Linked DNA regions of Homo sapiens: region 1 is linked to region 2. The links come from fine-mapping of genetic effects on gene expression. A gene starts in region 2. The other region holds a variant in brackets. All regions are shown on one strand. Distances are from middle to middle.

Region 1 (16,732 bases), 100 kb before region 2:
GAAATGAGTGATGTATGCCTGGTAATTCTCTCCTTCTACTCCTTACTCCAAAATGTACCAGTTTTATAACCTACCAAAACTGCCCTTGCAGATATTATGATCTCCTTTTCTTCTTTTCAAATCCTAAAAAAATTTTTCTATTATCTTCTGATCCAAAAATTCTGCAGAATTTTATTGTGTAGAAGACTCTTTTCCTTGCATGTCTCTCTCCTCTGGAGTTTCATGTTTGTTCTGTTCTTCCTTCTCTGATCACTGCCTTTCTACTTCATCTCTTCCTACATCTAACCTCCAAACAGAAAGTCCTATCAAAATACTTGTTTTTGTTTTTGTTTTGTTTTGACAAGGACTGGCCGCCATGCCTGACTAATTTTTGTATTTTTAGTAGAGACGGGGTTTTACCATGTTGGCCAGGCTTGTCTTGAACTCCTGGCCTCAAATGATCCACCTGAAACGGCCTCCCAAAGTGCTGGGATTACAGGCATGTGCCACCACGCCCAGAACTTTTTTTTTTCTTTTTTCTTTTTTTTTCTTTTCTTTTCTTTTTTTTTTTTTTTTTGTATCTTCAACACTTCTGCAAGTTCTCCCAATCTCAGTCTCAGATAGCAAATCTATTTGGATAACTCTCAATCCAACATCTCTGGTATGTAAATCGTGCCTGTAATCTAGATTATATTTTAAATGCTTAAGAATAGCTATGTTTTGATTATTCAAAAGCCAAGGACTTTGATAAGATTACTCAAATACAGGATGAGAAAAGAAAACTGTCCAGAATCAAATGCTGAAGCACTTAAACAAGTAAAGATTGAGTAGATATGAAGGAGCCATCAAAGGAGACGAAGGAACCAACCATGAGGCAAGACAAAAGCTGAGAAAAAGGAAGTGTCCCAGAAGCCAAGAGAAGCACAAATGAGGGAGAAAGCAGACCTGTTCAATGCAAGAAAAAGTCAATACACTGGGATAGAGAGGGGGCCACTGGAGTTGTAAACACCGAGGTTTCCACAGTAGTGGTGGGCAGGAGAGAAGCCAGACTTGAGTGAGTGGAAGAATTTGTGGGTGGCAAGGAAAGGGAGAGAGCAAGAGAGGCAAACTCTTTAGAGAAGTTTTGCAGGTAAATCAGACTGGGTGAGAGATTTGGGGATGAAGGTAGTTTTTTTGTGTATTTAGTATATGGCAGATACTAGAGAATGTGTGCATGCTGGTTGGAATACCCAGAGAAACAGAGAGAGAGAGAGACACTGGTATTGCAACAAGGTAAGAGATAACTGAAGGATCAAAGTTCTTGAGAAGGAAAAAGAATGAACCCACAGCTCGGTTGACATAGGCCCTTGAAAGCAAGTTGAATACAGTTCTCATTGTAACAGGAAAGATATAGTGAAGACACGTTCAATTACTAATAGAATTATAGATTTTGTGGTGGAGAAACTAATAAAATTTTCTGCTAGTTTCCATTTCTCTTGAGTAAAACAGTGATGTCATTATCCAAAGTGAAGAGAAGTTGAGGAGGGTTGGGGAGATTTGAAGAAAAAGAAATCAGAGTATGGGAAAGAAGACAGAAAAGTAAGACTGTAGGATGGCACTGAGAATCCATGTGAGGTGTGTGGTTATGTTCTTATGATGAAACCAGCTTCTTGGTGTGATTTTGTCCTGCAAAATTCAAGATAAATAGATAGGTAAAGTGTAATAGTGTAAATATCATTGTGTAGGAGTTCAGGGAAGGCCTCTCAGACAATTCTAGCAGACCTATAAGAAGTGAGGCTAGTTTCCAAGGATTCTATATAGAGCATACAATAAGTGCAAATCCCTTAGGTGGGAACATGCTTCCCATTAGTTCCAGAAATATTCAGGAACTCAGTGTAACTGGAACACAGTTTTAGAAGGTGAGTGGTGAGAGACAAGATGGTGTAGAGCAGATTTTCAGAGTCTTAAATTAAAATATATATATATATAAAGAGAGAGAGTTTTACTTATAGTGAAGTGCCCACATATTAATTATACAGCTTAATAAATACTTATCTCTCCATATATATCTACATATACACACACATTTATATATTTTATACATATATTTACACACCCAGATATATTACATATACCCATGTAAACATAACCTAGGTCAAAATATGGGGCATTTCTGGCATTCCAAATGGCTATCTTGTGCAAGGATGAGAATTTTGAATTGTATTTCTGGGTAAGATTTGAAGCTACTAAAGGAAGTGGCACCATCTGACTGATTTTTAAAAGGATTACTCTGAGTGCCACACAAAAAATATACTGATGACATTGCAACATCTGAGCAAGAGATAAAGGTAGCTTGGACCAAGTGAGTGGTGGGGAAGGTTGTAAGAAGTGGTCAGATTCTGATTATGTTTTGAAAATAATGTTCCCATGTTTTATGATGGCCCGAATCTGAGCTGTAAGATAAAGAGAAAAGTAAAGGATGACTAAGAGATTTGTGGCCTGAACAATCAATGGAGCTGCCATTTAGTGAGAGGAAGAACCAGAGGAGGGGAATGTTTGGAACATAACTAGAGGAATCAATAGTTATGTTTTGGTTATATTAGCTTGAAATAGAGACTAGACATTTAATCAGAAATATCTAGTGGAGGCCAGACATGGTGGCTCACGCCTGTAATCCCAACAGTTTGGGAGGCTCAGGCAGGAGAATTGCTTGGGCCCAGGAGTTCGAGACTAGCCTAGGCAACGTAGTGAGATCTTGTCTGTACAAAAATAAATAAATCAAATTAAATTAAAATTATCTGGGCATGGAGGAGGCTGAGGTGGGAAGATTTCCTGAGCCTGAGAGGTAGAGGCTGCAGTGAGCTGTGATGGTTGCACTCCACTCTAGTCTGGGCGACAGACCAAGGCCCAATCTTGAAAAGAGAAGAAGAAGAGGAAGAGGAAGAAGAAAGAAGAAAGAAGAAAGAACAAAGAAGAAAGAAGAAATACAATAATGGTGTGTCCCAGAAGCCAAGTGAAGAGGGTGTCTCAAGAAGGATAAATGATCTATGGCATCAGGTGCTGCTGAGAGCTCAAGAAAGATGAGGAATGAGAACTGGCCATTGGATTTGGCAATGTGTAAATAATTGATTACAACATCACTTACTACTGACATTTCTTACCCTCCAGTAATTTCTCCCTTCATTCATATTGTGTTTGTGTGTGTGGGGGGGGGAGGGGTGTTATTTTTCCTCTTAACTGATACTTGATTAAAGAATGGTAATTTTGCTCTTTAAATGGGTGCTTATCCTACATACCTAACTTCTCATCACTGTTTAAGAATAGGTAATTTTTTGTTTCCCTTTTTCTCACCCTTATAGGTGTAAGTTTGGACAAGTGATTTAAGGAAAATGATGGGTAAAAAAAAAAAAGAAATCTAGGCAAATAGGAATAAGCCTTTCACAAGGCATATCTAAGAAGGTTGAAAGTATTATTTGAAGGAATGTATGCCATCTGAAAAAAAAGTCTAGTAGAGAAACAGCAGGGAATAAGATGGTACAGATGTCAGTTTAAAATTAATACAAAATAAAGCCATTGTCATAATTACCTCAACACAATTTAGGACCCCAGTTTGGAGATTTTTATTCCTATGAAACAGTTATTAGTGTTACTCACATATTTCCAATTCTCTGGTTTGTAGCTATATGCAACAACTGCATTCCCCACCTCTTTTTAAAGTTAGACATGCCCATGCTACTTGTTATGGCCAATGAAATGTGAGTAGAAGTGACCTGTGTCACTTCCATTTGATAATTTTGCAGAGTAATGCATGATTTCCCTGTTTTCTTGCCATACTGATGGCCTTCAGTAGCCTGGATTCCTGAGTAATTATGATAAACAAAGCCATCCATCTGACTTTTAGTGGAGATATAGTATGAATGAAAAATAAACTTGCACATTTTAAAATTCATTATATTTCACTTATTTATTGTCTTTTAGCGACAGGGTCTTGCTCTGTCACGCAGACTGGAATGCAGTGGTGCAATCATGGCTCACTGAAGCATTGCATTCCTGATCACAAGCTATCCTCCTACCTCAGCTTCCAGAGTAGCTATGACTACAGACACACACCACTATGGCAGCTAATTTTTAAATTTTTTTGTAGAGGCAGAGGTCTTCCTATGTTGCCCGGGCTGGTCTTAAACTCCTGGACTCAAGCGATCCTTCCTCCTCAGTGTTCCAAAGTGCTGGGATCACAGGCACTGTGTTCAGCCAATTTTTGCCTTTTTAAGCAGCTAAAATTTTGGGGTTGCTTGCCTCTCTAAAAAGATCTAGCCCATCCTAACACATACTATTAAATTAATCTTTGATTAAGAAGTTTACATGTTTTCATCACCTGGAGAGATTTACAGTAACAGAAAAAGTAAAATCTAAACAAATAACTGTTTACTTGTTGGGTTTTGGGTGTCCATAGAAAATATGTTTGGGGGTAGTAAGATCTTGATATTCTACTCTACAAGCAGTTCCTAATAGGAGAAAGAACAAAATCAAATAAATAATGGTTCTCTCAAGTTTCATCTACCACTTCATCCTTGCCTGGAAAGGAGTAAATACATGTTGCGCTTTATGTTATACGTGACCGACAAAGTGCTAAATATTTTTGGAAGGCTTTATGAGATAAAATTTACATAACATAAAATTATCCATCTTGATTATTTTAAAGTGTCTTATTCAGTGGTCTTTAGCATATTCACTATGTTAGGCAAGCATCTCTGCTGTCTAATTTCAGAACATTTTCATTACCCCAAAATGATAAGCTGTACCCATTAAGCAGTCACTTCCCCTCTTCCTTCCTTCAGCTTCTGGCAACCACTGATCTATTTTCTGTTCTGTGGGTTTGCCTATTCCAGATATTTAATATTAATGAAATTGAACAATATGTGGCCTTTTGTGTCTCACTGCTTTTACTTTGCATAATGTTTTAGAGGTTCATTCATTCCATTTTATGGATATATCACATTTTGTTTATCCATTCAGCAATTGACAGAAATTTGGGTTGTTTACACTTTTTGTCTATTATGAATAGTGCTACAGTGAACCTTTGTGTCTAAGTTTTTGTGTGAATATATGTCTTCATTCTCTTATTTGTTTGGGGAACCACAAAACTCTTTTCCACAGCTGCTGTACTATTACATTTCCACCAGCAATGTATAAAGTTCCAATTTCTCCACTTAAAAAAAAAATTATAGCCATTTAGTAAGTGTGAAGAGGTATCTCATTGCAGTTTGGCTTTGCATTTTCCTAATTGTTAATAATGTTAAGCATCTTTGGCCCAGTGTGGTGGCTCACATTTATAATCCCAGCACTTTGGGAGGCTAAAGCGGGAGGATTGCTTGAGCCCTGGAGTTTGAGACAAGCCTGGGCAACATGACAAGATCCTGTCTCTACAACAAAAAGAAAAAAAAATGTTTAAAAATCTTCCCATGTGCTTATTGGCCATTTCTACATCTTCTTTCTAGAAATAGCTATTCAAACTTTTGCCCATGTCAGCTTCAATTGTTTGCCTTTATGTTGTTGAGTTATGAAAGTTTTTTTAGTATATCTTTTGCATATTAGACTCTAATAAAATGTATAGTTTGCAAATATGCTCTTACATTCTCTGGGTCGTTTTTTTTTTTTTTTTTCCATTTTCTTGGCAGTGTCCCTTGACACACAAAATTATTTAATTTTGATGAAATCAAAATTTTCTCTTTTGATATTTGTGCATTTGGTGTTATATTTAATAAAATATTGCCTAACCCAAGGTTACAAAGTTTTGTCCCTCTGTTTCCTTCTAAGAGGTTTTTACTTAGCTCTTACATGTAAGTATTTGATCCATTTGGGGCTTTTTTTTTTTTTTTTTTGAGACAGAGTCTCACTCTGTCACCCAGGCTGGAGTGCAGTAGTGGTGCGAACTTGGCTCACTGCAACCTCTGCCTCCCAGGTTCAAGCCATCTCCTGCCTCAGTCTCCCGAGTAGCTGGGATTACAGGCGCTTACCACCATGCCTAGCTAATTTTTGTATTTTTAGTAGAGATGGGTTTCACCATGTTGGCCAGGCTTGTCTCGAACTCCTCACCTCAAGTCATCCGCCTGCCTCGGCCTCCCAAAGTGCTGGAATTAATTTGTGTATATGGTATCAATAGGAATCCAAATTCATTATTTCACATGTGGTTATCAATCTGTCCAGCATCATTTGTTAAAAAGACTATTCTTTCTCCATTGAATGGTCTTGGTATATTTGTCAAAAATCTCTTGACCATAGGTAAATGAATGTACCCCTGGACTCAGTTTGATTCCCTTAATTTATGTGTCCATCCACAACCCAGCACCACACTGTTTTGATTATTACAGACTTGTAGTACATTTCGAAATTCACTCCCTAATCGGGTTCTGGGCTGAAAATGGAATGCACAACTATGATGCTCTGTTTTTAAATAGAGTCCCCTCTTCAAGTCAGATTATCATTTAACCCCTTTATATCCATCCACTGCAGTGTGGGCTGGTAATGTGTAATTCATCTCTGCTTTGTGCAGTTCTTTTCTGTACCGGTTGTGTTTTTTAACCTATCTTAGCTTGGGCAACCATAATAAAATACCATAGACTGGCTTAAACAACAGGAATTTATTTTTCACAGTTCTGGAGACTGTGTAATCCAAGATCAATGTGCCAGACAATTTGGCTCCCTAGAAAGGGCTCTATTCCTGTCCTGCAGACAGCGACCTACTTGCTCTGTCCTCACGTGACAAAAAAGAGAGTTCTAGTCTTTCTTCCTCCTCTTATAAAAACATTGTTTAAATGGTAAGTTGAGTAATAGTCACATTTTAAAGAGTTTATTTGAGCAAACAATTCATGAATTGGGAAGCTCCAAATCAGAAGTGGACTGGGAGCTCCACCAAGGGAATGCAAGAGAGAGGCTTTTACAGAAAAAAATACGGAGGTAAAAAAAATAAAATATTTAATTGGTTACAGTTATTCAGTTGCCTTATTAGGTCTATCTTGTTCCTAGTTACATAATTATAGGTTTGTTTTCCGTTTCTGAATGGTTAGTGCTTAAATTCTGTTTTTCTTTAATAGAGGCATTTACAAGAAATAGCTCAAGCTAAGTTTTGCTTATGTTTGAAAATCAAGCAAGGTTGAAGTCACTCATGAGGCCTCACTGGTTAAGTCTGCTCAGAGAATCTTCAGGCCTGGTTTCCATTTAAATTTACTTTAATATCAATAATCCTATCACGGAGGTCCATGCTGACAACCTCATCTATACCTAATCACCTCCTCAAGGCCCCACTTCCAGATATCACATTGATGGCGAAGTCTTCACTACACAAATTTTGGTGGAACAAAAACATTCAGTCTATAACATTACCTATCACTTCAACAGAAGGTGGTAAAATATGAGAGGGATACAATTCTGTAGTTTTATAAATTCAGAGTGATTGTTAACAGCTCCTATGGGACAAAAATAAAAAGAGTGTAGGTTGGGAAAAATATAGATCTACCCACAGTTTGGCAAGAATTTTGACTGCTGCTTCTTCCCAAGTGGTGATAATAACCAGCTCAGAATTAATTAGATTTAATAGATTAAAAAATTTGCCTAGCAAAAGAACCCTCTTCTATTAGGAGTTTCTTGTTTCACATTCTAATGGCATACCCTTTTAGTTGTTGATTTAAATTTTGTAAAAACTGGAGAAGTAGTCAAGACCCTTAAAATGTATACTGAGTTTTAATTTCAAGTTATTTGGTTTAATTAATAGAGACAATCTCTCTTTTATTTTATTAAGCTTATTTTATTAAACTATTCAGTGTTCCACATTTTTGACATCGTAAAAAATTAGTAAGGGACAATAAATATTTAAGTTCTCCAATTTTAGAATTGTTTATGTTATAATTTGAATACATAAATACTAGTGATTTTGACATATTTATACATTAAGGTTGATAAATCATTTTATTTTTCTCCTTTTAAAATAATTGTTTACCCAATGAAATCAACCTGAGAAAAAGCATCCAGATCTTTTCTGAAATATCAAACCACACTTATGCTAAGTTTGTTTGTATAGTACTTGTTGATTTTAAAATATTGGAGTTGATGGCTAATTGTCTACCAACATCTATTCTCCTTATTTCATAACAGTAGAGTTATGTCTGTCACAGCCCCATCCTGCTAGAGATGATCAGACTCCCCTGCTGCTGGATATGTCCAAGTGACATAATGTATTCCACTTGCTTAAAGAGAAGGATTTCCCCTCCACTTCTCATGTTCCCCTAACCTGTAATCTGGACCATGCAGATGAGAGAAAGCCTAGAGCAGAGCAGCTGGCTAGAAGGAGCCCAAGACCCTGAATGACAGATCTTATGGACCACAACTGCCCACCTGTCTAAACTACCACCTTCCTTTAATCTGTTGCATGAGAGAAAAATAAGTCATTATACCATTTCACCCTATGTAATATAGACACTATAGAACAAATGCACTCTATTTAATGTTACATGTCTTGATTTTGTGGAAGAAACACAGGAATATGTGGTATTTTTTTCTTCTCTTATTGAGTTTCTAATTCAATGTAAAAAACTAATACAGGAGAGAAAATTTGGACAATGAAATACTTCACCTAATTAGTACAGAACATTAATACTTATAGCGAAATAATTGGATTAGTTAAAGAAGTTTATGGTGATTGAAGAAACATCTTGAAATATGGGTAAAAACATTTTCAAAAGACAAGAACAAGAAGAAGTCCTTTCAAATTTACAGAAGTAAATGTATTGGGGCAGAAATAGTATATTACATGAAGAAAATAAGATGAAATTGGATGATTGGCATGTATGTTTCACCATGTGAGAAAAGAGTGAGTATGTTAGGGCAGCTTATGCAGAAAT[T/G]TAGGTTCTTAATCAATAAAATGATACAATGGTAAGAAAACCAGATCAGCATGGGAAGAGAATGGAAGCAAGGATGACCCCTTAAGCTATAACCTAAACCCTAGAGTGTGATAAAATAATTTTAAAGAGAAAACAGAGATTACAAAGATTATAAAGAGACAGAACAGAAAACAAGATATACTTGCTCACAGAAGATGCATTTGCAAAAGTCTAAACCTATATGAAAAAGTTTTCACAAAGCATTTTTACTCTGTATCAATAATGCAACTAGCAGTGATAATCAGGATGAAATTACTTAGGACATCATTCTTTTCCATTTACTATCATTGTTACTGACTTTTTTTTTTTTTCTTTTTTTTTTCTGAGACGGAGTCTGGAGTCTGGCTCTGTCGCCCAGGCTGGAGTGCAGTGGCGCGATCTCTGCTCACTGCAAGCTCTGCTTCCCGGGGTTCACGCCATTCTCCTGCCTCAGCCTCCCCAGTAGCTGGGACTACAGGTGCCCGCCGCCACGCCCGGCTAATTTTTTGTATTTTTAGTAGAGACGGGGTTTCACCGGGGTTTCAGGATGATCTTGAGCTCCTGACCTCGTGATCCGCCCGCCTCGGCCTCCCAAAGTGCTGGGATTACAGGCGTGAGCCACCGCGCCCTGCCCTTACTGACATTCTTAGCAACAAACTTTCTGTCATCATGGGAACCTAAGCATGACTTATAGTAGTATTAGCTTAGTTGTTTCATATGATAATATTTTATAATCTTAGTAAACTTGCTTGCAAATAAAATGTGACATAGAAAGGGCTCATATATTTTTCGCTGAACTGAATTAGAAACTGCACAATATTTCTATTGCAAAATTTCCTACATATGTATGGCATACATGGTGATGAAGATGGCCTCTCATGAGATAACAGGCCTTTATAGAGTATTTAAATAATTTAATAATTTAGAATAAAGCCTTCAAGAAGTGACTGTGCCCTCACCTACAATTGTACTTTCTTTGTTGAAATACTTATGCTCCAGGGAAGAGGTTATACTAATCATGGTAGTGCTCCCTTGATTCATTTTTTGAACAAATTGTGTCCGGAATTGGTGGGTTCTTGGTCTCACTGACTTCAAGAAGGAAGTCGAGGACCCTCGCGGTGAGTGTTACAGTTCTTAAAGGTGGCATGTCCGGAGTTCATTCCTTCTGATGCTCGGATGTGTTTGGAGTTTCTTCCTTCTGGTGGGGTTCGTAGTCTCGCGGGCTCAGGAGTGAAGCTGTGGACCTCAGCGGTGAGTGTTACAGCTCTTAAGGCCTCGCATCTGGAGTTGTTCTTTCCTCCCGGTGGGTTTGTGGTCTCGCTGGCTTCAGGAGTGAAGCTGCAGACCTTCATGGTGAGTGTTACAGCTCATAAAGGCAGCGTGGACCCAAAGAGTTAGCAGCAGCAAGATTTATTGCAAAGAGCGAAAGAACAAAGCTTCCACAGTGTGGAAGGGGACCGGAGCAGGTTGCCACTGCTGGCTCGGGCAGCCTGCTTTTATTCTCTTATCTGGCCCCACCCACATCCTGCTGATTGGTCCATTTTACAGAGAGCCGAGTGGTCTGATTGGTGCATTTACAATCCCTGAGCTAGACACAAAGGTTCTCCACCTCCCCACTAGATTAGCTAGATACAGAGTGTAGACACAGAAGTTCTCCAAGTCCCCACCAGAGTAGGTAGATACAGTGTGTCGATTGGTGCATTCACAAACCCTGAGCTAGACACAGGGTGCTGACTGGTGTGTTTACAAACCTTGAGCTAGGTACAGAGTGCCCATTGGTGTATTTACAATCCCTTAGCTAGACATAAAGGTTCTCCAAGTCCCCACCAGAGTAGCTGGATACAGAGTGTCCATTGGTGCATTCACAAACCCTGAGCTAGACACAGGGTGCTGATTGCTGTGTTTACAAACCTTGAGCTAGATACAGAGTGCCGATTGGTGTACTTACAATCCCTTAGCTAGACATAAAGGTTCTCCAAGTCCTCACCAGAGTCAGGAGCCCAGCTGGCTTCACCCAGTGGATCCCGCACTGGGGCCACAGGTGGAGCTGCCTGCCAGTCCCGCGCCATGCACCCACACTCCTCAGCCCTTGGGTGGTCGATGGGACTGGGCACCGTGGAGCAGGGGGCGGTGCTTGTCCGGGAGGCTCAGGCCACACCGGAGCCCACGGAAGCGGGGAGGCTCAGGCATGGCTGGCTGCAGTTCCCAAGCCCTGCCCCATGGGGAGGCAGCTAAGGGCCGGCAAGAAATTGAGCGCAGCGCCGGTGGGCTGGCACTGCTGGGGGACCCAGTACACCCTCCACAGCTGCTGGCCTGGGTGCTAAGCTCCTCATTGCCCTGGCCAGCAGGGCCAGTGGGCCGTTCCAAGTGTGGTGCCCGCCAAGCCCACGCCCACCCGGAACTCCAGCTGGCCCACAAGCAGGGTGTGCAGCCCTAGTTCTTGCTTGCGCCTCTCTGGTTCCCGCTTGCGTATCTTCCTCCACACCTCCCTGCAAGCTGAGTGAGCCAGCTCTGGCCCTGGCCAGCCCAGAAACAGGTTCCCACAGTGCAGTGGTGGGCTGAAGGGCTCCTCAAGTTCTGCGAAAGTGGGAGCCCAGGCAGAGGAGGTGCCCAGAGCAAGCGAGGGCTGCGAGGGCTGCCAGCACACTGTCATCTCTCAAAATGTTCACTAAGTGCTACCGGGTGGTAGGCATTGCTCTAGGTCCTAAGGAAAGAGTATTTGAACAAGCTCCTTGCTCTCATGGAGCTTAAATTCTCATAGCAGAGATAAACAATAAATAAGTAAAAAAAATCAGTGACATGACCTTACTATTTGTACAATGAAGAAAGTAAAGTAAGAGGCTACTGAATATCGAAGTAGGGAGGTCGGGTAAAGCCTTCCTACTGAGAAGTGGTCAGAGAACTGAATGATGAGATAAAGCAGCCATGCAGTATCTGCGGAGAGAAAATTCCAGGTAAAGATAACAACAGGTATAAGTCCATGAGGCAAGAACCAGCCTAGCAGGTTGAAGAACAAGAAGGCAAAATGACTAAGCACAGTAAACAGGGGGGAGGAATAAATGAGGTCAGGGAGATAGGAAAGTGCCTGATTATATTGGGCTATATAAGCCTTGGTCAGGAGTTTGGATAGAACAGAAATTAATTATATGTATATTATAGAAAATAAATATGGTTGTGGTTGGTATCATAATCTGCAGCTCAACTTAGAACAGAAGTACTTAAACGGGACACTACAACTACACTTAAAGCTTCCAGTAAGTTTTTCAATGGTCCCATCTTTGACATAAGCTACACCAAGTGTCACCAGGCACCTGAGGAGAGCACTAGAAGAAAGTCAGAAATCCAAGCAAATACAAACAAAGAAGGGGACAGTGCAAAAGCATGAAAATTGCTATTTTTGTTCTTATTTATTTATTTATTTTTCAACTGGCCAAGTCAATATGTATTAAAAAACACACAAACACATGCACAGTGGTAACAAAATAGAGACAGGGAAAGGAGACTCTACATCTCCTATCTGGGGACAGGCTGACCACATAGCATTTCTACAGGGCACGCCTCACTTTAAGAAAGAAGGTATCTTCAAGACCAGATTGACAAGCTAGATAAATGGATAAATCTTTGTTTTTGTGAGAGAACTATATATATATATATATTTTTTTTTTTTGTCAGAGTCTTGCTCTGTCGCCCAGGCTGGAGTGCAGTGGCATGATCTTGGCTCATTGCAACCTTCGCCTCCTGGGCTCAAGCAATTCTCCTGCCTCATCCTCCCAAGTAATGGGACTACAGGCAAGTGCCACCAAACTCGGCTCATTTTTTTATTTTTAGTAGAAATGGGATTTCACCACGTTGGCCAGGCTGGTCTTGAACTCCTGACCTCAGGTGATCCACCTGCCTTGGCCTCCCAAGTGCTGGGATTGCAGGCTGAGCCACCATGCCCAGCCTGTAAGAGCACTTAAGGCAGCTTCACTACTCTGAGGAATAGGAAGTAGAAGAGATTTATGCAGGAGTATTCACAAACCCCTCCAGTTGTGCTAAGAGGGCTCATGAGTACCTGACATGGTTCTGGAAGCAAGAAAGGAGAGAACAGATTTTCCTTGAGACTGCTTTCCTTTCCCAGAAGAGGAGGAATGTTCTCCAAGGAAGACTGGAGAAAGAGGCTCCTCCCAGGAGCTCAGGGAACCAGCTTCTTGGGAAAGCAGGACCAAAGTGCAGGCCCGTGTTGGTGCCTGCCAGCCTGGCAGGACTTTGGCACAGGAACACAGGTCCAGAGCCTTGCCTAGGGTCACTGGTCCTCCTTTCTATAGAGCTCCATAAGGTCCAGAGACTGTTGCCTCATCAGATAGCTACATCTGTGGCTTGGGTTACACGTGAGATCTTGTAGGACAGCCATATGCTTGTCATGCAGGAAAGGTGGCAACAAAATCAAAGATATACAGGGGAGAGAGAGGAGAGAAAGTTACAGGCCAAAGGCCTATCACTTGGGCAATTCTTTCTGTTTCTCAACTCTGTGCTCATTCCCTGTATGTCTGTGGCCAGCAAGGAGCTTGGGTAGTCATCTGACCCAATCACCTCATCCTCACTCAGGTACAGAGGTGAAGCCCAGAGAGGCCCAGCCGCCAGCCTCGGGTTCCCTAGGTTGGGTCCAGGGCAGGCCAGGCCACCAAGCCTCTGGGTCACCACCCTCGGCCCTTCTCACTCAAGGCAGCTTCAATGCCCACGTGTGGGTTTATATTTACAACTGAGTTGGCTGGACTTTGATTATCCACTCCTGCTATCAGTCCAGTTCTAGTTATAAAGCTTGGAGGCCACCATGATGGAGGTGATTAGGAGGAGCAGGGTAGTGATTAAATAGTGCAAAGTTCTGATAGGGGCCAGCAGATATAGGTGAGCATGCAGAACAGGTGGATCAGAAAAAATGGTACTGATTAAATAGTGCAGAAGTTCTGACAAGGGCCAACAGATACAGGTGAGCAGGCAGAAGAGGTGGATCAGAAAAAATGGTGAGGATCATTATCAAGTTGAAAATGGTGACCACTTCAAAGTAGCTGTAAGTGCTGTAGTCAGTCTACAGAGAGCTCTGAACACAGATGAAGGCAATCAACAGGATGACCTTGTCATTTTCTAGTAGTGGTGAACTCAAGAAGAGGCCCAAGGCAGGGGAAGCTGTTCTCCAATGGAACAGCCTTTGCAATGATTTCCTAAGTCCCTTGAAAGACACAGTCTGCCAAAACTCACAGGAGAAATAGATAATCTGGATAGGCTTAAATTTATTAAATAAACTGAATCAATAATAATCTTCCAAAACAGAGAGCACCAGACCCAGAGGGTTCGCAGGTGAATTTTACTAAACATTTAAGGAAGAAATTCTAACAATTCTCCAAAATCTCTTTTAGAAGATAGAAGCAGAGGGAATACCTGTTAATTCACTCTATGAGACAAGTGTTGCCCTAATACCAAAACTTGACAAAGGCATTATGAGAAAAGAGAACTACAGACCAATAGTTCTCATGAATATTGATGTGAAAATCTTTAGCAAAATATTAGCAATTTAAATCCAACAGTGTATAATATATATGTGTATATACATAATGTGTATATATATACATAATGTGTACATATATACACATTATATATATGTATATTATATATCTATATATAGGTGTTAGATGTCTTAAATAGGTGTCATAAATAGGTGTTAGATTTTCTCAAACGTTTTTTCTTCATCTATTGATAAAGACTGAGCTGCAGATTATGATACCATGTAATTTTTCTTCTTTAGCCTGTTGATGTGACAGATACATTAATTTTTTAATGTTGAACCAGAATTGCATTCTTGGGAAAACCCCTATTTGGCTGTAGTGTGTGTGTGTGTGTTTGTGTATCTATATATCTAGATATAGGTATATCTATATCTATCTATATCTATATCTATCTATATACTTATATCTATCTGTATCTCTATATCTATCTATCTATATATCTATCTACACACACACACACACACACACACACACACACACACACACTACAACCAAATAACACATAACACCTATTTATGATTTAAGAGAAACTTAGCAAACTAGCAATACAGAGGAACTTCGTCAACTCGATTGAAAAAATATAAAAGCCCTACAGTTAACATCATATTCAATGGTGAGAAAACTTGAAGCTTCCTGATAAGATCAGGAACAAGGCAAGGATGCCCCTGTCACCAGTTCTTTTCAGCATTGTACTGGAAGGCCTAACTAATGCGATAAAATTAAATAAATGGTATACAAATGAAATAAAAAGTATACAGATTGGAAGGGAAGAAACACTTTGTTCACAGATAACACAATCATTTGTAGAAAATCTGAAAAAATCACAAAAAAAAAAACGCTCCTGGAACAAATAGACATTTATAGCAAGGTTTCAGGATAAAAGGTTATGTATAAAAGTCAAGTGCTTTCCTATGTACCAGCAATGAACAAGTGGGATTTAAAATTAAAAACTAATTACTATTTACATTAGCACCCTTAAAAATGAAATACTTAGGTATAAAATGAACAAAATGTGTACAAGATGTATGAGAAAAACTATGAAACACTGATGAAATAAATAAAAACTTTAATAAATGTAGAGACGTTCCATGTTTGTGATACAAAGATTCAATATTGTCAAGATACCAGTTTTTTCCCCAGCTTATCTGTAGATTCAATGCAATCTCAATATCAGCAAGTTATCTTGTGGATATTGACAAATGTATTCTAAAGTTTATATGGAGAGGTAAAAGACCCAGAATAGGCAACTCAATCTTAAAGGAGAAGAACTGAGTCAAGGAACTGACAGTTTAAAATTTACCATAAAGTAACAGTATTAAGGCAGTGTGGTATTGGAGAGACAAATAGATCAGTTGAACAGAATGGAGAATCCAGAAATAGACCCACATAAATATAGTCACCTAATCTTTGGAAAAAAAAAAAGCAAAAGCAATACAACAGAGTAAAGATAGGTTTTTGAAAACAGTGATGGAACAACTATATCCATATGCAAAATCAAAATAAAAAATAAAAAGTCAACCTTCTAGACACAAACCTTACATTCTTCACCAAAACAAACTCAAAATGGATCATAGACTTAAATGTAAAACACAAAACTATAAACTCTTAAAAGATAACAGGAGAAAATCTAGATGACCTTGGAGGTGGTGGTGACTTTTTATATACAACACCTAAACAATACATTAAAGAAAGAATTAAAGTTAAAGAATTAAAATTAACTTCTTCATTAAAATGAAGAACTTCTACTCTGTGAAAACACTGACAAGAGAATGAGAAGACAAGTCACAGACAAGGAAAAAAATTTACAAAAGACATATCATATCTGAAAAGAACTATTATCCAAAACAAGCAAAGAGGTCTTAACTCAATAATAAGAAAACCTGATTGAAACATGGCCAAAAGACCTGAAAAGATAGCTCATCCAAGAAGATATTAAAGTGGCAAATAAGCATATGAAAAGATGTTCAACATCAGATGTCATTAGGGAATTTCAAATTAAGATGACAATGAGATACCACTACAAATATATTAGAATGGGCAAAATTCAGCACACTGACATCACGTGCTGGCAAGAATGTAGAGCAAAAGGAACTCTCTTGCATTGTGGATGGGAATGCAAAACTAGTGCAGCCCTTTGGAAGACAGTTTGGCAATGTCTTAAAAAACAATATAATCTTACTGTATGATCTGTAAATTATGCTCCTTAACATTTACCCAAATGAATTGAAAAATTATGCCAACACTGAAGTTTGGACAGTCATTTATGGCAGCCTTATTCACACTTGTGAAAACTTGGAAGGCACCAAGATATCCTTT
Region 2 (15,031 bases):
ATACAACCACAAACACATGCTATAACACGGTTTAACTCATATCAGTTAGAGAACCAAAATTGTGGTTAGTATATATTCATGAAAGGGTATATACATATTTGTATAATACACATTTGTAATATATGTGCAAATGTGTATACACACACACACACACGTATATTTATTCTAATCAAAGCCTCCTATTCATCCTCTTACCAGAGAAGGAATTTTTCAATTGCTTACCATGGATGCTTTAACGCATACATATTTAGAAAGGATAATTTTCTATTGCTGTAGTCTTTTAAAAACAATATTAATTTTCAGGATCCCACTTGAGGGCTGCCAGTGTTTGGTTTTTAAGTCATTTGGACAGTTTCATGCAGATGTGTAATCCTAGTTATTTACCTAACAGCACTGGGTTTTGATTATTCCATTTTCTAATACATACCTGCCTTCCAGCTTCATTGTTATGTAGGTTCATTGCTAATAGTACTTTGTTTTCTTTGCCCGTGGTGTTTCCGATGGGGAAATCTAGGAACTTTCTGCTGAACCACATGCCATACTGGACATCATCGGAGCAGCCCCCCCAGTGCCAGCCTTCACTTGCTGAGCCGCCGTTCTGCAAGGTGGTGTCACAGGAACACTCTGTCATGTTGCCTGCACTGCATGACCTGGTCACAGAATGCACCAGGCCTGCAGCCATCACAGCATAAATAAATGCTGTCTCTTTGGTGCCTAGAAAAAATATAAATTGCTAAATTAGAGAACCAGGCAACTTCTGTTTATGTTCAGAAGAAAGCCTCCTACTCATGATCTTACTGGACAAGTAATTTTTCAGTTGCTTACAATGGATGCGTTAACGAGTACATATTTAGAAAGGAAGATTTGCTCTTGTTCTAGTCTCTTAAAAAGCAACATTAATTTTCAGTATTCCACTTGAAGAGATTGTCATATACTGTATGGTCATACATTGTCCCTTTACCTTAAAATCATCTCTTTATTTTTTAAATTTGAAATGTATGTTTGCACCCAGTTCAGTGCACAGTTGACAGTCATAGCTCAGTAATACATGCTGAATTAAAAATTCTTTGCATAGATACTGTAAACGGTAATACAACACCCAAAGAACACTAGATTGCTTTTCTTTTGAAATTTAAAATGTGCTCTCACAGAACACAAGCTGAACATTTTGGTGTGATTTTTGTTTGCATAAATAATACGTGTCAGAATGAAAATTAAAATTAAGGAAAGACCAAAGCAATTAGTAAACGGTACCGTATATTTTCACATTAAAGATTAGTCTCACATTAACATGAAACAGTTAAACATTTTATATAGTATTAGCTACTCCTCTTACAGTCTTAAAGGCAATGAAAGGTAAGATAATTAAAATGTCACTAGCAAAAACATAATTCTATTAAAAATATTGAATATTGAAAATTATGCATTTAGCACACCTGCAGTAGAGTTTGAGCTAAAATCTTTGAAAATTAAAGTCCATTAAAACATTAATAACATGGACTAGAAGGGAATCAGCAGGCGACTTTTTTTTTTTCTTTCCAGATGTTTAGTTTGGAGTAGAAACAGTTTCATGCCCGCTGTCCAATAAACCTTTTCAACAGCTGATGCATTTCAGCAACTGTGAAAAACACATCTATTTTTTTTCTTTCTGTCTCTTTTTTTTTTTTTTTTTTTTTTCTCTCTACGGGGACCAGGGCTCCTTCGGAAGGGCGTGCCGGCCAGAACGCCGCGGGGGAGGTGCGCGGCTCGGCGGGGGTGCGCGCAGGGACTGCGTGGACAAGGGTCAAAGGCGGAGGGGGAACGGAAATGAACATGAAAAACGACAGCGCATCCTTCAGCGCCCCAGTCCTAACATTCTTTGGATCTGTTGATATTCCAGGAACAATCCTGGCTCCCTGTACCTTTATCCTTACCAAGTCACTACGCACGTGGAAGTGGAACTTTGTTTTCCTGCAGCTTCCCGCGCCGCGGGAGTGCGCCGAGGAGGGAAAGATAGAAAAGCCAAAGAAACGAGAAGCGCACAAGTGGTCCTGCTCAGGTTAGCCGCACGTTGGGTGGTCGCGGACAGTCGCTTTAAAAGTCACCATTATTCTGTCAACTCGGTGCTCCTAGGAGCCAATAAAGGTGGGGCTTCGCTGCAATTAGCCACTTGTCCGGGGTTTGGTGCGCAGCGGAGTTGGTTAAATCAAAGCAGATGCGGCAGCCGCATTCCCCGCTGCCGACATCATGTTTCTCCAGCTGGTCACCCACGTAGGGGGGCGCTACGGGGTCCGAGGGGGTCGGCGGGGTAGGAGAATTAGAGTTTTTTTTCCAACTCTGGCGGGGCACCGCAGGAAAGAGGAAGAGCTCCAGCCCCTAGAGCTCCGCTCTGGAACTGGGGAGTCACCTCCCTCCAGGCTCGCACCTGCTCCCCAGGTCTGGCCTTTGTAGCTCTCAATCCCCGTGCACTAAAGGGCTTCTTCTGGAACTTAGAGAGCTACAGGACCACGTAGCACTATTTACTTTATTTGCAGGAACCGGTGGAGGAGTTGTCGCCTTCCGTCCCCCACCAACCCCTAAGGACCCAGGACTCACCGCTGCTCAGCTCGTAGCCAAAGAGGGGGCTGGCGCCCATCGGGGCGGTAGTGGCGGCGGCGGTGATCATGCAGTTCCATCTCTCGTGTCTGAACTGGCTCCCGCACTCCTGAATGCCCAGCCGGGCGCCCTCTCGGATGCTCGGCAGCAGGTACGGTTTCCTCTTGCACAGCTCCTTCTGGCGGCTGTTCAGCGGCAAATTGGCGCAGCCCAGCTTCTCTGGAACCCCGAAGGAGGCAATGCCCAACCACCTGTAAGACACGGCCGCCCGTAGCGTTAAGCCGCTCCCCAATTCCAGATGTTTTCCGAAAAATTAGGTCACTCGTCTAAGGGTCCCCGCCCTTCTCCCCCAGCCTCAGTTGAAAGTTCCCTAGGATTGGGCACCCCTTTTGCCACCTACCCGATGCTTCCCTGCCACCTCCATACTCACATCCAGTTTCCTTGGGCTCCGTAGGGGAACAGCACGAGCAGGGCTGCCCACAGCGCGCACAAGCGGGCCAGTCCCAGGAGCGCCGCCCTGTCCATCGCCCCCGCATGGAGTCCCCCAGCCCAGCCGCTCCTCTTTTGCACCCCCTCCCCAGAGGCCCTTCGGGCCGCAGGTCAGTTGTCCAGCACCAAGTTATCCCTCGCCCTCTTCCTCCTTGCATACAACATTAAAAGGCCAGCAGTGATAGGGACTCTCAGCAGCTTCCCCCTCGTTTGCAGGGAGCTGTAGGAGAGATGGAGAGAGCAGCCTGGGGATCTCCTCCTGCGCAGGGGTGGAGATGTGCAGGAGATGCGGGAGCGCCCCTCGCATTCCTAGGTGAGAAACTTCTGTTGATGTATCCGCGTCTCCATCGCCCCCGGCCTCTCCTCCCATCTCCTCCCCCTGGCCGCGCCTGGAGCCTGATTGGCTGAGCAGCGGCCCCGCATCTCATCATCTCGGGACCTCAGGCTCTTATTGGTGGAGAGCGGCTCCGCGGGGGGCGCTCCGGGCACTGGCCTCAGGGACAGCGTGTCCAGACCTGGGTGTGTCATGACCTTTCCTGCTGTCACAGTCTCCTTAGAACGGGTCGTTGTGGGGTTGATTCAACCCGAAGACTAACAGGACGCTCTGTCTTAGCAACCTTGGGGGAAAGCGTGGGTTTGATGAGTCCCACCCATCCCACCAACATCTGGGTTACCCTCTGGGTGTAGTGGCTGGAAAATGTCACTGACCTTTTTTTCTTCTCCTTCACCTCACAGGAGAATAATCTTTTTGAGTCAGAGTTGGTACCGAACAAATTAACCTTCCAGTCCCCTGCTTGAGGTCCCACTGTCAGGAGACTTTAGAGAGTGGGTGAAGTGCTGTCAGGCTTACAATCACTGTCATTTATGTATGCATTTATTTTGAGCGAAAGAGAAGATTCCAGTCTAGCATCTCATCTGCCATATTTCAATCGTGCTCTGTGATTTCCTTTTCCCTATTTGTCTTATTTCCTGCAGTCCCTGAGAACGCTGTAAGTCCCCTGCAGAAGATGGGGACAAAGAAAGTGAGAGGTTTCTGGAGAGTTCTAGAGTACATGAGAGATGTGCTCTGATCTTTTTCTCCAGTCCTACCTTACGATTCTCATGGTGGGAGGGTCCCTGCCCTTCTCCCCCAACCTCAGTTGAAAGTTCGCTAGGATTGGGCACCCCTTTGCCACCTACCCGATGCGTCCCTGCAGGACAGGGCTACACATGGAAGACACATTTTTAAAAACGTACTTATTAAATACCTGCTGTGTGCCTAGTCCTGTGGGAATTTATAAAGACAAGCTCTCTTCCCACAACTGTACAAATAAACCATACACAAGTGTAAAAGAAAATACGTTTAGATGATCAGTAAGAGAGATTAAAGAATCTAGCAGGGTACTCCCTGGAGCCGAAGATAGTTCAGAAGCAGGAAGTGTTCCAGTTACTGGCAGATTTGGAAGGTTAGTTAATCAGTGTTTTGTAGGATGGAAGGTCTCCGAGAGTTATCTGAAGGCAAGTGCAACGTGTTTAGCTGTGGTATTGGGAAAGCCTGCCTCACCTAATTAGACACAAGAAATGTTTCTAAGAAGCATTATCTGTCCTTAGAGATCTTTTGAAGTGTTAATACATTCCCATGGTGGACGTATCAGCTCAGTGGGTACCCAAAGCCAAAATTACTTAAATAAAGGATTTGGGGCCAGGTGCAGTGGCTCACACCTGTAATCCCAGCACTTTTGGAGGCCAAGATGGGCGGATCACCAGAGGTCAGGAGTTCAAGACCAGCATGGCCAACATGGTGAAACCCTGTCCCTGCTAAAAATACAAAATTATTTGGGTGTGGTGGTGCATGCCTGTAATCCCAGCTACTCGGGAGGCTAAGACAGGAGAATTGCTTGAACCTAGGAGGTGGAGGTTGCAGTGAGTTGAGATAGCGCCACTGCACTCCAGCCTATGGCACACAGTGAGACTCCGACTCAAAAAAAAAAAAAAAAAAAGGATTAGATAGCATTAGCTGCTTATCTCCTATATCAATCAGTGAGCAATAAAAGCTCACTGAAATTTTCATCCTATCCCATTCACTCCCTTATCCAACAAATGTTTATTGAGTGTACACTATGTACCAGGTTCTAAAGCCACATTTTAAAGAGTCGAGGAGTCAAGTTGATGATAGGATGTAGATACTGATCCAGAAATATTTTGGCTAACGGCTAGTGGCCTCTCTGAAAGTCAGAGCCTTCATCCAAGCTCACTTTATTCTGTGAGCTTCTCCAAGAGGGACAATGGCGGATTCATTGCTGTACCCCTGCCATTGGGCCTAGTACATAAGATCCTGTTTTTGAACAAAATTTATTGAGTGAATTAACAATGAGGAACATCCTGAGTGGATATGTAAGAGGCCTAAATGCTGGAACTACAGTTTTTACTTCATTTCAAGGGGAATTGGAAGTGGGGAGGCAATCTCCGGGTTGGGGGTGCTGGACAATATCCATACCTTAGGCTGATTTTAGGGCCAACGGTGGTAGATGTTTTAAAGAGGTGTTTGATTTTTTAAAAAATCAAAAACATATATTGAGTCTCTGTTATGGGTTAGAAAGTGGGGATAGCACTTACTCAAATGATCATGGAATTCACAGTCTACTTGGCAAGACAGACAAGGGAGCATGCAGCTATAATACGTGCAATAAATGTACAAAGTAGAGTGTGCTGTGAACACACAAAGGAAGATTACTTATTTCAGTCTTGGGGATCAGAGTGGGGAGGAGACACTTGAATGTTACCTTCATTATTATTCTGGGAATCTAGCACCATCTACGCATCCAGATAAAGCCTTTGGGGTGCACTCAGAGGGTATTCTGTCCTGAGAGTCAGAGACCACTGTGTCAAACATTTTCAAACACAAGACACAATTTTAGGGCGTGAGTGGTCTTGCATCTCTTTTGTATGGGCTAGAGCCTTAGGGGTCATTCTGTCCATATCTCCAAAACAAAGGAGACATATTTCTAGGAGCTGACCCAGCTGAGGAAGCAGATTTTTCATTCAGTGAACAGATATTTGAATGATAATTTTGTTCCAGGCATTGTGAACTTTCATGTTCTGAGAGCTGCCATACACTCCCAAATCCCTCTTACTGTCTTTATTTGTCTCTCTGTCTCTGTCTCATTCTCCATCTTTCTCTATACAAAATTGATACTCACTTTACAGATGAGGAAATTAATTTGGGGAGATTAAGAAACTTGCTCGAGGTTACTCAAAAACAATCAACCTTTAGAGGCCCCTCCTTTTTTTTTTTTTTTTTTTTTTTTTTTGAGATGAGGTATCATTCTATTGCCCAGGTTGGAGTGTAGTGGCTCTATCATGACTCACTGCAGCCTCAACTCCCAGGCACAAGCGATCCTCACCCTCAGCCTCCTGAGTAGCTGGGACTACAAGTGTGCACCGTTATATTCAGCTGTATTTTTTATTTTGTGTAGAGACAGGGGTCTCACTATGTTGCCCAGACTGGTCTCAAATTCCTGGCTCAAACAATCCTCCTGCCTCAGCCTCCCAAACTGCTGGGATTATAGGCATGATCCATGGCACCTGGCCAAGACCCTGTTTTTTTCACTACAACATACTTCTGCATGCCTAATTCAAAACATATATATAGTGTGTGTGTATAGAGAGAGATATGTTAGGTGTTATATATATATATATGTAAAATTTTTTTTCCCTGATCAAATCCCCAAATCTTAAAACTCAGATTACCGTGTCTTTGGGTCAAAATTTTTTACTGGTGTCTATGGTTCCTTACGTCACAATTCACAGATCTCTCCATTGAAACATTGAAAAAGTTGTTTTGTTCTCCAAAAATAAACAAAACCCACCATAGGGAGGTCTTTTGAGAAGCCCCTGTGAAGAGGGTCTCCCTGAGGCAAGTGGTGAGCTGCATGGGTGCCTTTCCATCTTTCTGGCTTTGCCCTCTGTGGTTTTTGCAGGCTGAGAGGGGCAGTGGAAAGAGCACTGGGTTGGGTTGGGTAACCGGGGCTCCTGTCAGCAGGTGATGATCGTGGACTACTCATTTCAACTTTGAGTCTCAGTTTTTTCATTTGCAAAATTATCAAAATTTCTTTTTCAGATCTGAATCTCTTACTGGAGCTACCATAGGGCTGGAGGGAGGAGAGTGGTACGTGTGTGTGTGTGTGTGTGTGTGTGTGTGTGTGTGTGTGTGTGTGCGCGCGCGCACATGGTGGGGAGGGGGAAACTGCATTTGCTGGGGGACTGCAGGAGGAGGAAACCTTAGCCATTGACAGGAACTTGTCTACCTGAAAGATGGTTCAGTCCCCAAGGTGGCATAAGCCAGGGTTTTTTGGCGCCCATCTTGTCTTAATATCTCCAGCTTCACTTTTGCTTCTGGATTTCAAGGAAAATGAATCTATTTTAATTGCAGAAGTCATTTAAAATGGTTGAATTTTAAAATATAATCTTGTCAGATCACATGAAATTTTATTTGGAGAATATAAGAAGTTACAGATATTTTATCCTGACATATGAAGTTGAGGAGCTCTTTCATAATCGAATTTATGTCTATTAATATAAAGCATTCAACTCTACTCTCATCGGAGGGGATTATGCTATTTAGACTTGATGAATGAAGTAAAAGATCAATTCCAAACATGTATACAACTGCACATTTTAAATTATTGATTTCTTTCTCAGCAAGCAGGAGCTTAATTTCCTATTTATTATATTTTGATTGAAGAGACGACAAAATATTCACTGACCAGTAGAATGTGAGACCTAAAGTTTACTGTACTGTATAAACTTTTTAAGCTTCTAGTGTCCATATGCATAAAATGTTGTAAAGATCATATCATTAATCATTTAATAAACACATAAATGAGAGCTAATATTATGTCATTTCATGATCTGAGCCCAGCTGCCTAGATTTTGACTAGTGATGTTAAGAAAATCACCATATGACTGCAAGTTTGCATTGGTTACTCAAGCACCTGTAGTCTCTGGAGTCCACATAGAGGGCATACACTTAAACTCTTTTTCCTAGCTGGAGGTAAGGTGCTCTGAGCTGTATTCTGGGAAAAGGAATTAGGGAGGGGAGAGCCAGATTTCAAGCATACTCATTTCACTCAAAAGAGCTCTCTCAAGATGCTGAATCTGTGACTGTTATCATCTCCAATCCGCTGAGCCAACTGAACCAGATAAGTAGCTAGACAGCAATAAATCCCATCTTCCGCCCAAGACAGTTGTAGATTTCTAGTTGTAGAATACAGGGGAGCCTCTTCCTTCTGATAGTTTTCTCTCAGTCCCTGGGAAACTCAGCAAAAAAAGTCTGCCTGCAGAGATATGCCTTGGACTCTGCCTCTGGCAGCCCATCAGAGGACGAGACTTCTAAGGGCCCTGTTGTAAGAATTTCTGCTGCAGATCACAGAGACTTATGTGCTGGAAACTGATACCAGAAGCACCCCAGCTGGTCTTAACTCCCATGATAGAACAGAAGACCAGAGGTGACTTTTTACATAACTGGGTCCCCATCCATTCTATTTTAAATTCCACCTGGATGCTACAAGTGTGGAACAGAGCACAGGCTTGTGACCACTGGCTCTTAGGAGGGGGTGGAGAATGGCATTCTGGATAGCCTGCTGTCCTTTAGTGGCCAGAAAAACCCGCAGGAATGACAGACTTGGAGGAACAGAGGAGACACCAGCGATAGTCCCAGGAGAAAGAGCAGGAGTTGGAAAGGGATGATGCTTTGCTTTTTAAATTTCCACAACCACAGAAGTTAAAAGTTTTTTGTTTACTCATCCTAGCAATTAAGGTTGAAGAAGGCTTGTAAAGTGTCAGTAGAAAGTGACTTATCTCTTACCAGCATTTCCCCAGCAATCCTTAAAAAACTTAAAATAAAAAACAGGGTACCTCAAGATTTTTTTAAGTGGTATTTTGTAGGAATTATGCAATTTTTTTGGAATAAGGGAATAAAAGTAAAAACATTCCTTGACAAATAAGAGTGGTCACTTCATTCAGAGGGTAAAAGTAAATAAAATGCACAAAACTGGAATATATTGATAGTTTTGATTCTTTAAATACTTTTTCCCAGTAATTTTTTCCAAATAAAGCAACTTCATTAATGAATGATTTTAATGTTTTAATGTTGTCAGGAAAATTAAGAATCTGGCATTTACATTGTTTAAAGTAATATTTATGGAGTAATCACTAGGCTGCCTATAATGGAAAAAACAAATTTGCCCTTCTTGAGGGATTTTCCTAAGATAGAATAATTAAAACTTCAAGGGGGCCAGGCGTGGTGGCTCACACCTGTAATCCCTTACTTTGGGAGGCTGAGGCAGGAGGATCACTTGAGCCCAGGAGTTTGAGACCAGCCTGTGCAACATAGGGAGACCCCATCTCAACAAATAATTTAAAAATTAGCTGGGTGTGTTGGTGTGCACCTCTGGTCTCAGCTACTTAGAAGGATGAGGCAGGAAGATTGCCTGAGCCCTGGATGTTGAGGCAGCAGAGAGTCATGTTAGCACCATTGCATTCCAGCCTGGGTGATAGAGTGAGACCCAATCTCAAAAACAAACAACTTCAAGAGAAAAGCCATTTAAAATTGACTGCATCTATCCTATTCTATCCGTTGGTCTGCATAATTATAGTTAACGTCATGTCATAAATGTCTTTCAGTCAACAAATGCCTGTCAAAAGTAAACAATTGCTGACACTGCTTTTGTATCCAAGGTCATTTTTCGAATGTCTAACCTTTGGTTACTGTCCTCATTATTAGTGGGAGCAAGTTGAAATGGAGGCTTTTAAGTCTGGCCAAGCAACAAATGCCATTTGGTGTTTACTTATATCTCATTGTTCACATTTAAACTTGACCTTAATATTTTCACTTTCCTCCCTAAAATCTTTAATAATTTATTTACTCCTATATCAGTTTTAAACCCTTTGGTTTGACTTCTAAAATCCTTTATTCAGGATTTGTCCATAACTGTCATTTCTGATTAAATTCACTCTATATCCTTGTACTCATTCTTCCTAAGCAAGACACCTTCTGTCTTCCCTTTTCCATAAGCAGGACCTGCATATTTGTCTTTCAGTTTCTTGAGAAACACTGCGTCTATGCCTAGAAATTTCTTTTCTCTCCTTCCACTTACTCAAACCTATCTACCCATTTTCTAGGTCATACCACTTTTGGAGTTAACCATGTTAACGTCTCTCTCTGCCCAATTCCTATATTACCTGAGGTCCCTACCATAATACTTATCACTTAATTTACTTTTGCTAATGGTCTAACGTACCTTAGTTGTCAGTCACCAATTAGATTATAAAACATCTTTTTTAAAATTATACTTTAAGTTCTGGGATACGTGTGCAGAATGGGCAGGTTTGTTACATAGGTATACACGTGCCAGGGTAGTTTGCTGCACCCATCAACCCATCATCTACATTGGGTATTTCTCCTAATGCTATCCCTCCCCTAACCCCCAAACCCCCATGACATACCCCCTGGTGTATGATGTTCCCCTCCCTGTGTCCATGTGTCTCATTGTTCAATTCCCACTTATGAATGAGAACATGCAGTGTTTGATTTTCTGTTCTTGTGTTAGTTTGCTGAGAATGATGGTTTCCAGCTTCATCCATGTCCCTGCAAAGGACATGAACTCATCCTTTTCTTATGGCTGCATAGTACTTCATAGTGTATATGTGCCACATTTTCTTTATCCAGTCTATCATTGATGGGCATTTGGGTTGGTTCCAAGTCTTTGCTATTGTGAACAGTGCAGCAAAAAACATACGTGTGCATGCATGTGTCTTAACAGTAGAATGATTTATAATCCTTTAGGTATATACCCAGTAATGGGATTGCTGGGTCAAATGGTATTTCTGGTTCTAGATCCTTGAAGGAATTGCCACACTGTCTTCCGCAATGGTTGAACTAATTTACATTCCCACCAACACTGTAAAAGCATTCCTATTTCTCCACATCCTCTCCAGCATCTGTTGTTTCCTGACTCTTTAATGATCTCTATTCTAACTGGTGTGAGATGGTATCTTTCATGCGCGTCCGTGTGAAGAGACCACCAAACAGGCTTTGTGTGAGCAATATGGCTGTTTATTTCACCTGGGTGCAGGCGGGCTGAGTCCAAAAAGAGAGTCAGGAAGGGAGATAGGGATGGGGCCCTTTTATAGGATTTGGGAAGGTAATGGAAAATTACAGTCAAAGGCGGTTGTTCTCTGGTGGGCAGGGGTGGATCTCACAAAGTACATTCTCAAGGGTGGGGAGAATTACAAAGAACCTTCTTAAGGGTGGGGGAGATTACAAAGTACATTGATCAGTTAGGGTGGGGCAGGAACAAATCACAATGGTGGAATGTCATCAGTTAAGGCTGTTTTTACTTCTTTGTGGATCTTCAGTTACTTTAGGCCATCTGGATGTATACATGCAAGTCACAGGGGATGCGATGGCCTGGCCTGGGCTCAGAGGCCTGACATTCCTGCCTTCTTATATTAATAAGACAAGTAAAACAAAATAGTGTTGAAGTGTTGGGGCGGCGAAAATTTTTGGGGGGTGGTATGGAGAGAGAATGGGTGATATTTCCAAGGGCTGCTTCAAGCAGGATTAGGGGCGGCATGGGAACCTAGAGTGGGAGAGATTAAGCTGAAGGGAGGTCTTGTGGCAAGGGGTGATATTGTGGGATTGTTAGAAGAAACATTTATCATATAGAATGATTGGTGATGGCCTGGATACGGTTTTGGATGAATTGAGAAACTAAATGGAATAACAGAAGGAGAAAAACAGGTATAAAAGGTCTAAGAATTGGGACGACTCAGGATATCTGATTAGAGAGTGCCTAAGGAGATTCAGCATAGTCCTGCCAGCAAAGATTATTTATTTACTTCAAGAGTTAAGAGTGGCAGTTTGGGGATAGCGCCAGGAGATATCAGCTGTGATGGCTTGGAAAAACAGTGTAAACCGGCAGTGTAAACAAGAGCAGGGCATGTATGAGTAGTTGAGAACGGTGAATAGGAGTATGACTAGACTGAAGATAGTAGGGATGACAAGTTTTTTTGGGCACAGTCTAAGTTGGTCTGGTGTCTGGAATGAGACTGGGGCCTAATAAAAAGGAGCGTCTATACAGGAGCTTAAATGGGCTGTACCCTGTAGCATTCCAAAGACAGGCCTGAATTCTGAGAAGGGAAAGTGGTAAAAGTATTGTCCAGTCCTTTTTAAGTTGGTGGCTGAGCTTGGTGAGGTGTGTTTTTAAAAGACCTTTAGTCCATTCTACTTTTCTTGAAGACGGAGGACCATAAGGGATATAAAGGTTTCACTGAATACTAAGAGCCTGAAAAACTGCTTGGCTGATTTTACTAATAAAGGCTCACCTGTTATCAGACTGTATTGAGGTGGGAAGGCTAAACTGAGGAATTATGTCTGACAGAAGGGAAGAAATGACTGCGGTGGCCTTCTCAGACCCTATAGGAAAGGCCTCTACCTATCCAGTGAAAGTGTCTACCTAGACTAAGAGGTATTTTAGTTATCTGACTCAGGGCATGTTGAGTAAAGCTAATTTGCCAGTCCTGGGCGGGGCAAATCCTCGAGCTTGATGTGTAGGGAAGGGAGGGGGGCCTGAATAATCCCTGAGGAGTAGTAGAATAGCAGATGGAACACTGAGAAGTTATTTCCTTGAGGATAGATTTCCACAATGGAAAGGAAATGAGAGGTTCTAAGAGGCGAGTTAGTGGCTTGTACTATAGCATAACCTGCCTTTGCTGGTGTGTGGTGATTAGGCCTGGTGGAACCGCCATCAATAAATCAAGCGTGATCAGGGTGAGGAACAGGAAAGAAGGAAATTTGGGGAAATGGGGTGAATGTCAGGTGGATCAGAGAGATACAGTAATGGGGGTCAGGTGTGGTATCAGGAATAATGTGAGAGGCCGGATTGAAGTCTGGGCCAGGAACAACGGTAATTGTGGGAGACTCAACAAAGAGTGAGTATACCTGAAGGAGCCGGGAAGCAGAAAGCATATGCGTCAGGTATGAGGAAGAAAATAGATTTTGGAAGTTATGAGAACTGTAGAGAGTGAGTTGAGCATAGTTTGTGATTTTGAGGGCCTCTAAAAGTATTAAAGCAGTGGCAGCCACTGCATGCAGACATGAGGGCTAGGCTAAAACAGTAAGGTCAAGTTGTTTGGACAGAAAGGCTACAGGGTGTGGTCCTGGCTCTTGTGTAAGAATTCTGACCATGCTAACCATGCCTAGGAAGGAAAGGAGTTGTTGTTTTGTAGAAGGTGCTTGAGTTTGAGAGATCAGTCGGACCCAATTGGCAGGGAGAGCACATGTGTTTTTATGAGAATTATGTCGAGATAGGTAACAGATGAGGAAGAAATTTGGGCTTGATTGAAGTAATGGGGGCTGTCTGTGAAGCTTTGTGGCAGTACAGCCTAGGTAATTTGCTGAGCTTGATGGGTGTCAGGGTCAGTCCAAGTGAAAGCGAAGAGAGGCTGGGATTAAGGGTGCAAAGGAATAGTAAAGAAAGCATGTTTGAGATCTAGAACAGAATAATGGGTTGTAGAGGCAGGTATTGAGGATAGGAGAGTATATAGGTTTGGCACCATGGAGTGGCTAGGCAAAACAATTTGGTTGATAAGGCACAGATCCTGAACTAACTTGTAAGGCTTGTCTGGTTTTAGGACAGGTAAAATGGGGGAATTGTAAGGAGAGTTTATAGGCTTTAAAAGGCCATGCTGTAGCAGGCTTTAATCTTTTTAAAGCGTGCTGCGGGATGGGATATTGGCGTTGAGTGGGGTAAGGGTGATTAGGTTTTAATGAGATGGTAAGGGGTACATGATCGGTCGCCAAGGAGGGAGTAGAGGTATCTTATACTTGTGGGTTAAGGTGGGGGGATACAAGAGGAGGACGCAAAGGAGGCTTTGGATTGGAAAGAAGGGCGGCAATGAGATATAGCTGTAGTCCAGGAATAGTCAGGGAAGCAGATAATTTAGTTAAAGTGTCTCAGCCTAATAAGGGAACTGGGCAGGTGGGGATAACTAAAAAGGAGTGCTTAAAAGAGTACTGTCTAAGTTGGCACCAGAGTTGGGGAGTTTTAAGAGGTTTAGAAGCCTGGCCATCAATACCCACAACAGTTATGGAGGCAAGGGAAACAGGCCCTTGAAAAGAAGGTAATGTGGAGTGGGTAGCCTCCGTATTGATTAAGAAGGGGACGGACTTACCTTCCACTGTGAGAGTTACCCAAAGCTCGGTGTCCGTGATGGTCTACGGGGCTTCCGAGGCAATCGGGCAGCATCAGTCTTCAGCCACTAAGCCGAGAAGGAGTCGGTCAGAAAGCCTTGGGCCAGAGTTCCAGGGGCTCTGGGAGTGTCTGCCAGGTGAGTTGAACAGTCCGATTTCCAGTGGGGTCCCGCAAAGATGGGACACGGCTTAGGAGGAATCCTGGGCTGCAGGCATTCCTTGGCCTGGTGGTCAGATAGATTTCTGGCACTTGTAGCAAGCTCCTGGGGGAGGAGGTTCTGGAGGAACGCCTGGCTGCTGCGGTTCAGGCGTTTGGAAGTTCTTGTGTGCTGGAGATGTGGCTGGGGTTTGTCTCACAGTGGAGGCAAGGAATTGCAACTTTTTTCTATTATTGTACACCTTGAAGGCGAGGTTAATTAAATCCTGTTGTGGGGTTTGAGGGCCGGAATTTAATTTTTGGAGTTTTATTTAATGTCGGGAGCAGATTGGGTAATAAAATGTATTTTGAGAATAAGACGGCCTTTTGACCTTTTAGGGTCTAGGGCTGTAAAGAGTCTCAGGGTTGCTGCCAAACGAGCAATGAACTGGGCTGGGTTTTTATATTTGATGAAAAACAGCCTAAACACTATCTCATTTGGGATAAAGAAAAAGGAGCATTAATGTTGACTATACCTTTGGCTCCAGCCACCTTTTTAAGAATAAATTGCTGGGAAGGTGGACTAGGGCTAGTCACAG

Alleles and levels. Positions count from the first base shown, and alleles are read on the strand shown. Sizes are in standard deviations (SD) of each study's normalised expression.
For the expression in prefrontal cortex of the gene that starts at base 3,392 in region 2, G is the high allele of the variant in region 1 and T is the other (moderate effect, 0.58 SD a copy in GTEx).

The links. PIP is the estimated chance that this variant, and not a neighbour inherited with it, causes the effect.
Region 1: its variant is the best candidate, but not a certain one, in a credible set for the expression of WNT16 in prefrontal cortex (GTEx, PIP 0.73).

The regions. Positions count from the first base shown.
Region 1 is chr7:121,416,328-121,433,059 of GRCh38, reverse strand. No RefSeq gene overlaps it. Among named protein-coding and RNA genes, the nearest start is that of FAM3C, 28 kb to the right of the region's middle. The variant T/G (reference allele first, on the strand shown) is at 8,856.
Region 2 is chr7:121,317,361-121,332,391 of GRCh38, reverse strand. It overlaps WNT16 (Wnt family member 16), which reads right to left and starts at 3,392. Exons shown (of 4, transcript NM_057168.2): 1 at 3,005-3,392; 2 at 2,575-2,825; 3 at 428-714. The coding sequence starts at 3,099.